Regions from separate parts of the Homo sapiens genome. Here region 1 is reported to be linked to region 2. Evidence: microRNA targets listed by miRTarBase, many of them from high-throughput screens and not tested one by one. Region 2 holds a microRNA gene; the other region holds the end of a gene's coding sequence.
Evidence for each region. Region 2 holds the annotated microRNA hsa-miR-1182 (GAGGGUCUUGGGAGGGAUGUGAC, at 1,914-1,936, shown strand). A microRNA usually pairs through its seed, bases 2 to 8, with sites in the 3' UTR of a target mRNA and lowers its output. Matches are read on the target gene's strand: a 7mer-m8 pairs with bases 2 to 8, a 7mer-A1 pairs with bases 2 to 7 and ends in A, and an 8mer does both.

Region 1 (3,000 bases), not on the chromosome of region 2:
CCGAAGGAGGCCACAACTACCAGCCAAGGAATGCAGGTGGCTTCTTGAGGCTAGAAAAAGGGAAACAGGGTCTCCCCTGGCACCTCCAGAAGGAACAGAACTCTGCCAACCCCTCATTCTGAGCCCAAAGATACCCATTTTGAACTTCTACAAAACTTAGCTAATACATTTGTGTTGTTTTAAAACACTCAAAGCCAGGCACCAGTGGAACACTCATGTAACCCCAGCTACTCAGGAGGCCGAGGCAAGAGGATTGCTTGGGTCAAGGAGTTCAAGACCAGCCTGAGCAACATACCAAGACTGTTTCTCTATAAAAACTTACAAAAAAAAAAATAAAGGCCGGGTGTGGTGGGATGCACCTGCAGTCCCAGCTACCCAGGAGGCCAAAGTCGGGGGATCACTTGAGTCCAATAGTTCAAGACCAGCCTGGGCAACATAGCAAGCCTGCCCCCCGCTCCGCCCCAACCACCAAAAAAAGAAAAAAGAAAAAGAAACCAAACCTACTGAATTTGTGGCAATTTTTATGGCAGCTACAGAAAACTAGTACACAAATCCCAGTTGTGACAACCTAAGCGGTCTCCAGGCACTGCCCCTGTCCCGGCACCACCTCTGTTGGAGAGGCCTGTGCCTCTCAGTGCCAATACCCTGCTGCCAGCTGGCCCTGTGGCCACCTTACCCACCAGGAGACTGGCTCTGGGCCTCAGCCTGAAGGAGGCCAGGGTTTTGTCTCTGCTGCCACCATGGGGGAGGTGCTCTGTAGGGAGACCTCATGGAGCAGAGAGGGCAACCATCCCAGCATCACCAGCATCCTGGACCACCACGCTCTGACTGCAGCCTCAGGAGACACTCAAACGAGAGCAGGAGAGCTGGCAGGATGAGCCCAGCCAACCCCCAAGTCACAGAACAACGAGTGGTTCTTTAAAGCCACTCAGCAACAGAGGACTGCCCAGCTCATCACCCCCATGGCAACTGCTTACCTGTCAGCTCCGCTCTGCCCTGTTTACACCTGGGGATGCCTGCCTGGCATGCAGCTGGGCCCATAGGATCCCATTCCCCACATCATCATCAGGGGCCTCAGAGGGGGTGGGTCATGACCCAAAACTCCCCACACCCTTAAGGACAGTGCCCTGCCCAAAACTCCCCACACCCTTAAGGACACCTGCCCTAGCCCCTGGAGGATCTGCCCTCCATCCACCTACCCTAGGGCTCCTGAGAAATGCAGAGGATCCCTAGGGTGCACCAAATGACATTCAGAGGACTTGGGAGAGAAGGGGAGCACCTGGCTGTGTAATCTTGGAAGGCTTCCTGAAGGAGGAGGGAACTTCACTGAGTCTTACAGTAAGAAGGGGAGACAGGCAGGTGCAGAGGATTCAACTCGGGCCAGGGATCCTGTGTCAGGGCAGCAGGTGGCTGGCAGTGCAGTCAGGTGGCTTCTCAGCAGCGGGAAGGGGAGGGTTACAGGCCAGGTGGGCAGCACAGCCAGCATGTAGTGTATCTGGTGGTCCAGGCCACCGCACAGGTCCAGCTCCTGCCCTCACCTGGAGCCCAGGAGTGATCACCTCCGCTTGCCCCAAAGCCTCCTCCACCTAGCCACCTCCACAGAAGCCCAGTCAGGCCCCTAACAGTCAGTCACAGAGTTCAGGGCCCTTTCCCCACCCCCACCCACCCCGGGCTGGGAACCCATGCTCACAGCTCTCCTGCCCCGCCTCCCAATCCAGTCCCCCTGCAACTTAGTGTCCCCAAAATGCAGCTGGGACACGTTACCCCGGCTCAGCACCCTTCCGAGGGCCCTGCAGCCTGGAAACGAGGCAGTCACCCAGTGGACCATGTCCCACAGGCCCCTGCGGCAGCCAGCTCCTCACAGTTGCTCAGACCCCCTGCGCAGGATACCCTCTTGGCCCTCGTCCACCACCAGCATCGCTGTCCAGAGGCCAGGAGGCATCTCTGCCTCCAGACAGCCTCCCTCTGTGCTGGGCACTGCATTGGGTCCCTGGGCTTGCTGCTCCCCACCACAGCACCCCTGGGGTCCCGTGTGCCCTTCTGGGTCTTCAGAGGCAGGACCCAATGTGAGACCCCGCCCCCTGGAGAACTCTGCCTGGCCCATCTCACAGCCTGGTGCAGGCAGATACCCAGTTCCCCAGACCAGGCCAGCCAAGGAGCTGAGTCTCCAGGCAGCGCCTGCCACTGGGGCTTCCCAGGACACCAGTGCACCTCAGGCAGGCCCAGGTACCCCAGGCCTCCTCCCAGCGGCCCCGAGGGCAAGCTCCTGCTACCCAGGCCTTGCCAGGGCCCTCTCAGACTGACCCGGGGCAGTGTTCCCCTCCCCTAGATGGCCTCCCATAGCCCCTAGCCCGGTCTCCAAGGCCTCAGCAGCTGCAGGCTGTCCGGAGCCAGGTCCTGCCTGGCCTGTTTTCCTAACATGGGTGGGTGGTGACCCCCTGGTGGGGCACAAAGAAGGCGCAGAGGCTGCCCCCACCGTGGGCCCCCAAGGAAAGGCACTGGAAGACAGACAATGGGCTGAATGGGGCTCTTAGGAAGGGGGTGACCTCGAGGCCTCGAAAGTCGCATTATGCCAGAAAGGCGCACTGCGCGCCAGGAAGGCCTGGAAGGCGTTGGTGGACTCGGTGGACCTCAGCGGGTGGGGAAGGAGCACGTCCTTGTCCACGTCCTCCGACACCAGCTGGGCTACCATCTGCACGACGTCCTGCGGGCGAGGGTGGTCAGGGAGCCTCGAGGGGCGGGAAGGGGACAACGGCGGGGCCCGGGAGCGCCGGGGTAAAGGGCCCAGTGGGACTGAGTCGAGGGAGGCGAGGCGGAGGGGCGGGGCGGGGCGGGGACGGGGCGGGGAGGACCCGCCCCCCGCGCACCCTGCAGTGCAGCTGGGTCCCGGCGGCGCCCGGCCTCTCCCGGCCGCCCAGCGTGGCCAGCCGCCGGCGCTCGTCGATGCTGACGCTCCAGCGGCGGCCCGGGCGCCTGCGTTCCGGCGGCTCGCACACCTGG
Region 2 (4,660 bases):
GCTCTAAAGATTCACAAGTGAGGTCAACAATTTCATCTCCAGCAGTTTCCACGAGTTCTATGGGTTCTGCTTCCAAGGAAATCTCAGGGGTGGAGGTTGCTTCCCGTGTTCGCTTCTGGGCTTGTCTAGAATTTATTGCTCCACCTCGACGCTTTCTTGTACTCATTGTGCTCTTTGGTGCCTTTCGTTTCCTAACAGAAAAGGAAGTGATCTATACCAAGGTTTGCAGGGAAGTCGAATGTTCTCAACCTTTCGTGCCCTCTGGTTAATCATCTGGCTTGCAAAAGAATTTGGATCGGGACAGATTTCCAGTATTTTAAAGTCCTGGAGCTAGTTAGGTCTGCAGGCGCTGCCACCGGCGCACTCCAGAGAAGAAGCTCCTTCTCCAGCCGCCCAGGAGAGCTGTACCCATGCATCTTTAGTGCTTTAGCCCGGGAGGCATTAGAATCCTGTTTATTGAGTGGATTGATATTGAATTGCCCTAATAGCTCCATAAGAGAAATTATTGTTCCATTTTGCCATCAACCAAGGCACGGAGATGAAGGTGATAAATACCTTGCTCAGGGGCCAAGAAGCCGAAGGCAGGTCCCCTGGTGTCTTCTTGAGTTTCTTCCCGTTGCCATTCAGAGCAGGGTCTGTGGAACAGCAGCATAGCACGGAATCACCATAGGGGCTTGGTGGAAGCACAGCCATCCAGTGGCCCCAGACCCACTGAATCAGAGTCTGCTTGTTGAACAAGATCCCCGGGTGGTTCTCATGCACTTTAAAGGTTAAGAGGCACCGATGCTGGTCTATGCTGCATTTCCAAGAGGCTTAACTGTTCTCTCTTTGGTATTGGTGTAAACGATGCATTTCCTGTTCTGACTGTGACCGTGCTCTTTTCTCTGGGATGGGTGGTGGGGGAGGGAGGAACTGGAAGATAAACAAGTATATGACTTTTATAAATGTTCTGTGTTCTTTTGCTGCTTGTTTTTGTGGGGCTAGTTTTCAGGAGGAACTGTAGAGCCCTTCATCTTCCAGGGCTTCCTCATATTCAGTCAGTTACTCTGGGGAGGGATCCCAGAACCATCTGGGATAAGACTGACCCTGCCTGGAGGAGAGGGAGGCAGTGTAACCTCTGACCACTGAACTGCACAGAGGTGGGTGCTCCAGGGGGATGTCACGTTGGCCAGCTGCTGTCACTGGCAAAGGGCATTCTGTTGCCCCTGGGAGTTGAGAATGACTGCATCAGTCAGATCCTAACGCAGTAGCAGGGAAGGCCAATGTGGGTCTTCTCCGAGTCTGATTGGGAGAGGAAGTGACACACTCGTTTCTTGGCGTCCAAAGTGAAAGCAGGTGGGGCCACTAGAATATGCAGTGCTGTTGCTTCATCAGGCACACTCAGGAGCGCCAGGGTAAATTCTGCAGGCTGCCCTGGTTGCCCCACAGATGCGATCCTCACTGGACTCAATGAGTAACGTCTGAGGTATGGGCATAACACAATTAAGGTGTTCTCAAAACTGGAAATCCAAAGCATCCGAGTGATGCTCTGAATCATGCGCCGTGTGGAAGGAATGTGCTGGCAGGCGCAGATCGCCGGCTGAGTGTTCCACTGAAATTAAACTCAAGTGCTGACTTCTCGTTTTTTACCTCCCCACCCCTTCCCTCAAGGTTGGTCTCCGCCAGCTGGACATGTCCTTGCTCTGCCAACTGTACAGCCTCTACGAGTCGATTCAGGAGTACAAGGGGGCATGCCAGGCAGCCTCCAGCCCAGACTGCACTTACGCTCTGGAGAACGGCTTCTTCGATGAAGAGGAGGAATATTTCCAGGAGCAGAACTCCCTGCACGACAGGAGGGACCGAGGCCCTCCTCGGGACTTGTCACTGCCTGTCTCCTCCCTCTCCAGCAGCGACTGGATTCTGGAGTCCATCTAGAGGGTCTTGGGAGGGATGTGACTGTTGGGAAGCCCTTCCTACTGGACACGCTGTCATCATTTGCTGCTTCTCTTGCAAGAAAGCACCTCCGTTGTGGACGGTCCTCGGGCACAGGGGATGAGCGCTACCAGTTTCATTTGTAGGCAGGGAGTTCTCCGCGGATGCATGGTGGCAGTCTGCTTTGATGGCAGCAGTTTCTGCTTAGGTGACCTAGAGGTCCTCAGCAGTATCCTCCACACCTATTTATTGAGGTGCACCTGCTGGGGATTCATAATGAGAATATAACAAGAGGATCTCGGTGAAAGGCCTTAGTGGGTGTTTTGTGTGAGGTGGCTTGTAGCTAGCTACTTCCTTACAGATGGTAGAGTATTCCAATCCTCTTTGTGTTAGGGTTCTTGCTTCCAGTTTGGGATGTATTAAAACCACCATTTCACTGCTTCCCTTCCTCAATATGCTCTGCAGCTTTTCTTGCTGTTTAAACCTCTCGCCTCAGCTTTATTTATTTGTAAGCTGCATTACTAACTGCCCAGTGATTCGGTGAAAGCTTTTTACTGAAAAAGTTAACATTTCTAGTCATCCCAATCAACTGGCTTTTTTCAACCAAAATTTTATATCATTCTTTGTCTATCAGATACGAGAGGAAGGAAGATAATACGAAGACATGTTGAATAGTGAAAAAAAAAAAAAGAACACAAAAACTGGGGCAAGCCAATGTGATGTATCACTCACTGTAAGATGGCAAATGTTTTCATTTTTAAGATTCCGAATGTAAACTAGTGTGCTAGAAAGCAAACCACCCGCCACTCAAACCAGTAATTACCTTAAGCCTTAATATATTTATTAAAATACTTTATGAGAACATTACACTTTGTAGGTTAAAAATGAGGATAAAATGCTAAACTATCTGTGTCATGTGTTATTTTATTCTGAATTTGGAATCATCAACTTTCATGACTTGAATGCATTGAGTCCAGTCAAATAATGAAAGAAAATTAGTTTGTTTTTCTGCCACTAAATGCATTTGAAACAAGATTGACTCTGTTGAGCTTAAGGAATCGTTTTAGCAAGAGTAGATCACCATTTACAGCTGGTTCTCAGTGCTCTTTTTTTTCTTTGAGACGGAGTCTAGCTCTGCTGCCTAGGCTGGAGTGCAGTGGCACGATCTTGGCTCCCTGCAACCTCTGCCTCTCTGGGTTTAAGCAATTCTCCCACCTCAGCCTTCCGAGTAGCTGGGATTACAGGCGCCTGCCACCACGCCCAGCTGATTTTTGTATTTTTAATGGAGATGGGGTTTCACTGTGTTGTCCTAGCTGGTCTTGAACTCCTGACCTCGTGATCCACCCGCCTCGGCCTCCCAAAGTGCTGGGATTACAAGTGTGAGCCACCATGCCTGGCTGCTCTTCTGTCTTTGAATGCTGCAGACTCCTTCATCTTTCTTTTGGTGTGATAATTGCTCACTAGAGCGTCCTTCAGGTTAGGGAGAGGAAGGCACCTCAATGTCATGCATCGCCAAGTGTTAACCTGTCAAGTACACCCTGGGTCAGGAACTGGGGTGAGATACAGAGAAGGAGGAATACGCCTGCTTATTTCCTCTGTTGAAAGGAGTTAAAATGAGAGGTGGCAATTAATTGCCTTCAGCACATAACTGGTCAGTGGGGACAAGAAAATTAAAAGCAGTTAAGACCAACAGAGTTAAGTCTGGATCACTTGCAGGAAGTTCCTTTGAGGCTGTTCCATGCTTACAGTGAGTTGAACCTTTAGATCAGCTGTTCTTGAACCTGGCCACTTTAAGAATCACCTGGGGAATGTTTAGAAAAATACTGATGCCTAGGGCTGGGCGCGGTGGCCCACGCCTGTAATTCCAGCACTTTGGGAGGTCAAGGCAGGCACATCACAAGGTCAGGGGATTGAGACCATCCTGGCCAACATTGTGAAACCCCGTCTCTACTAAAAATACAAAAATTAGCCAGACATGGTGGTGCGTGCCTGTAGTTCCAGCTACTCGGGAGGCTGAGGCAGGAGAATCACTTGAACCCAGGAGGCAGAAGTTGCAGTGAGCCGAGATCGTGCCACCGCACTCTAGCCTGGTGACAGAGTGAGACTCCATCTCAAAAAAAAGAAAAAAAAGAAAAATACTGATGCCTGGGCTCCAGCACCCTGCATGCCTAGTCTGGATTTAAGTAGGAGTGAGGCGTGGGCGCCTCTATGGATCGAGGAAGCCTCCCAGGTGATTCTAATGTGTAGAAATGTTGAGATACAGTCCTTCAGCTACATAGTGTTCAAAGCGTGGTGCGTAGATCAGACATGGACAATCTCAAAGCACCCCAGCCTTGCTGAATCAGCCCCTGCCTCTTAAGATGCCTCTGATGATTCCTTTCACAAAGCTTGGGAAGCAGCTTTCTGTCGGCCCAGTGCCTAGCACTTGGAGACCACCTCTCCATAGAGGGCTACCAGGATCTCCTTCAGCACTGCGGAAGAGTGGGCCCCAGGGCATGATTAGGAGACCCCAGTCCTTTCAGAATGGGTCAACAATAGCAAGGGAGTGAAGCTCGAAGGACAAGTTCAGGCTTGGGGGAACTCATGGTTCAGAATGGCTCCCTTCCCTGGGTTGCTGCCTCTAGGCTGTTCTGGAACTGCAGTGATTCATTGTGCTTTTGAGTTTTGGGGCTTTCATCTCACTATTGCTGGATAGTCTGTCAGAGTTAGAAGTGGAATGAGTCGAGGCAGGCCAGGGGCCTCTCCCTTG

Region 1: the mRNA of TEX22 is a reported target of hsa-miR-1182. The part of its 3' UTR that is shown has no 7-base or 8-base seed match.

Annotation. Positions count from the first base shown.
Region 1 is chr14:105,411,364-105,414,363 of GRCh38, reverse strand. TEX22 (testis expressed 22) reads right to left here. Exons shown (of 4, transcript NM_001195082.2): 3 at 2,868-2,996; 4 at 505-2,704. The coding sequence ends at 2,531. Among named protein-coding and RNA genes, the nearest start is that of MTA1-DT, 6.9 kb to the left of the region's middle. RefSeq lists enhancers at 1,756-2,258, 2,259-2,762 and a silencer at 2,834-2,963.
Region 2 is chr1:231,017,117-231,021,776 of GRCh38, reverse strand. It overlaps MIR1182 (microRNA 1182), which reads left to right and starts at 1,853; the gene lies at 1,853-1,949. It overlaps FAM89A (family with sequence similarity 89 member A), which reads left to right. Exons shown (of 2, transcript NM_198552.3): 2 at 1,651-2,819. The coding sequence ends at 1,914. It also overlaps the pseudogene LOC644006.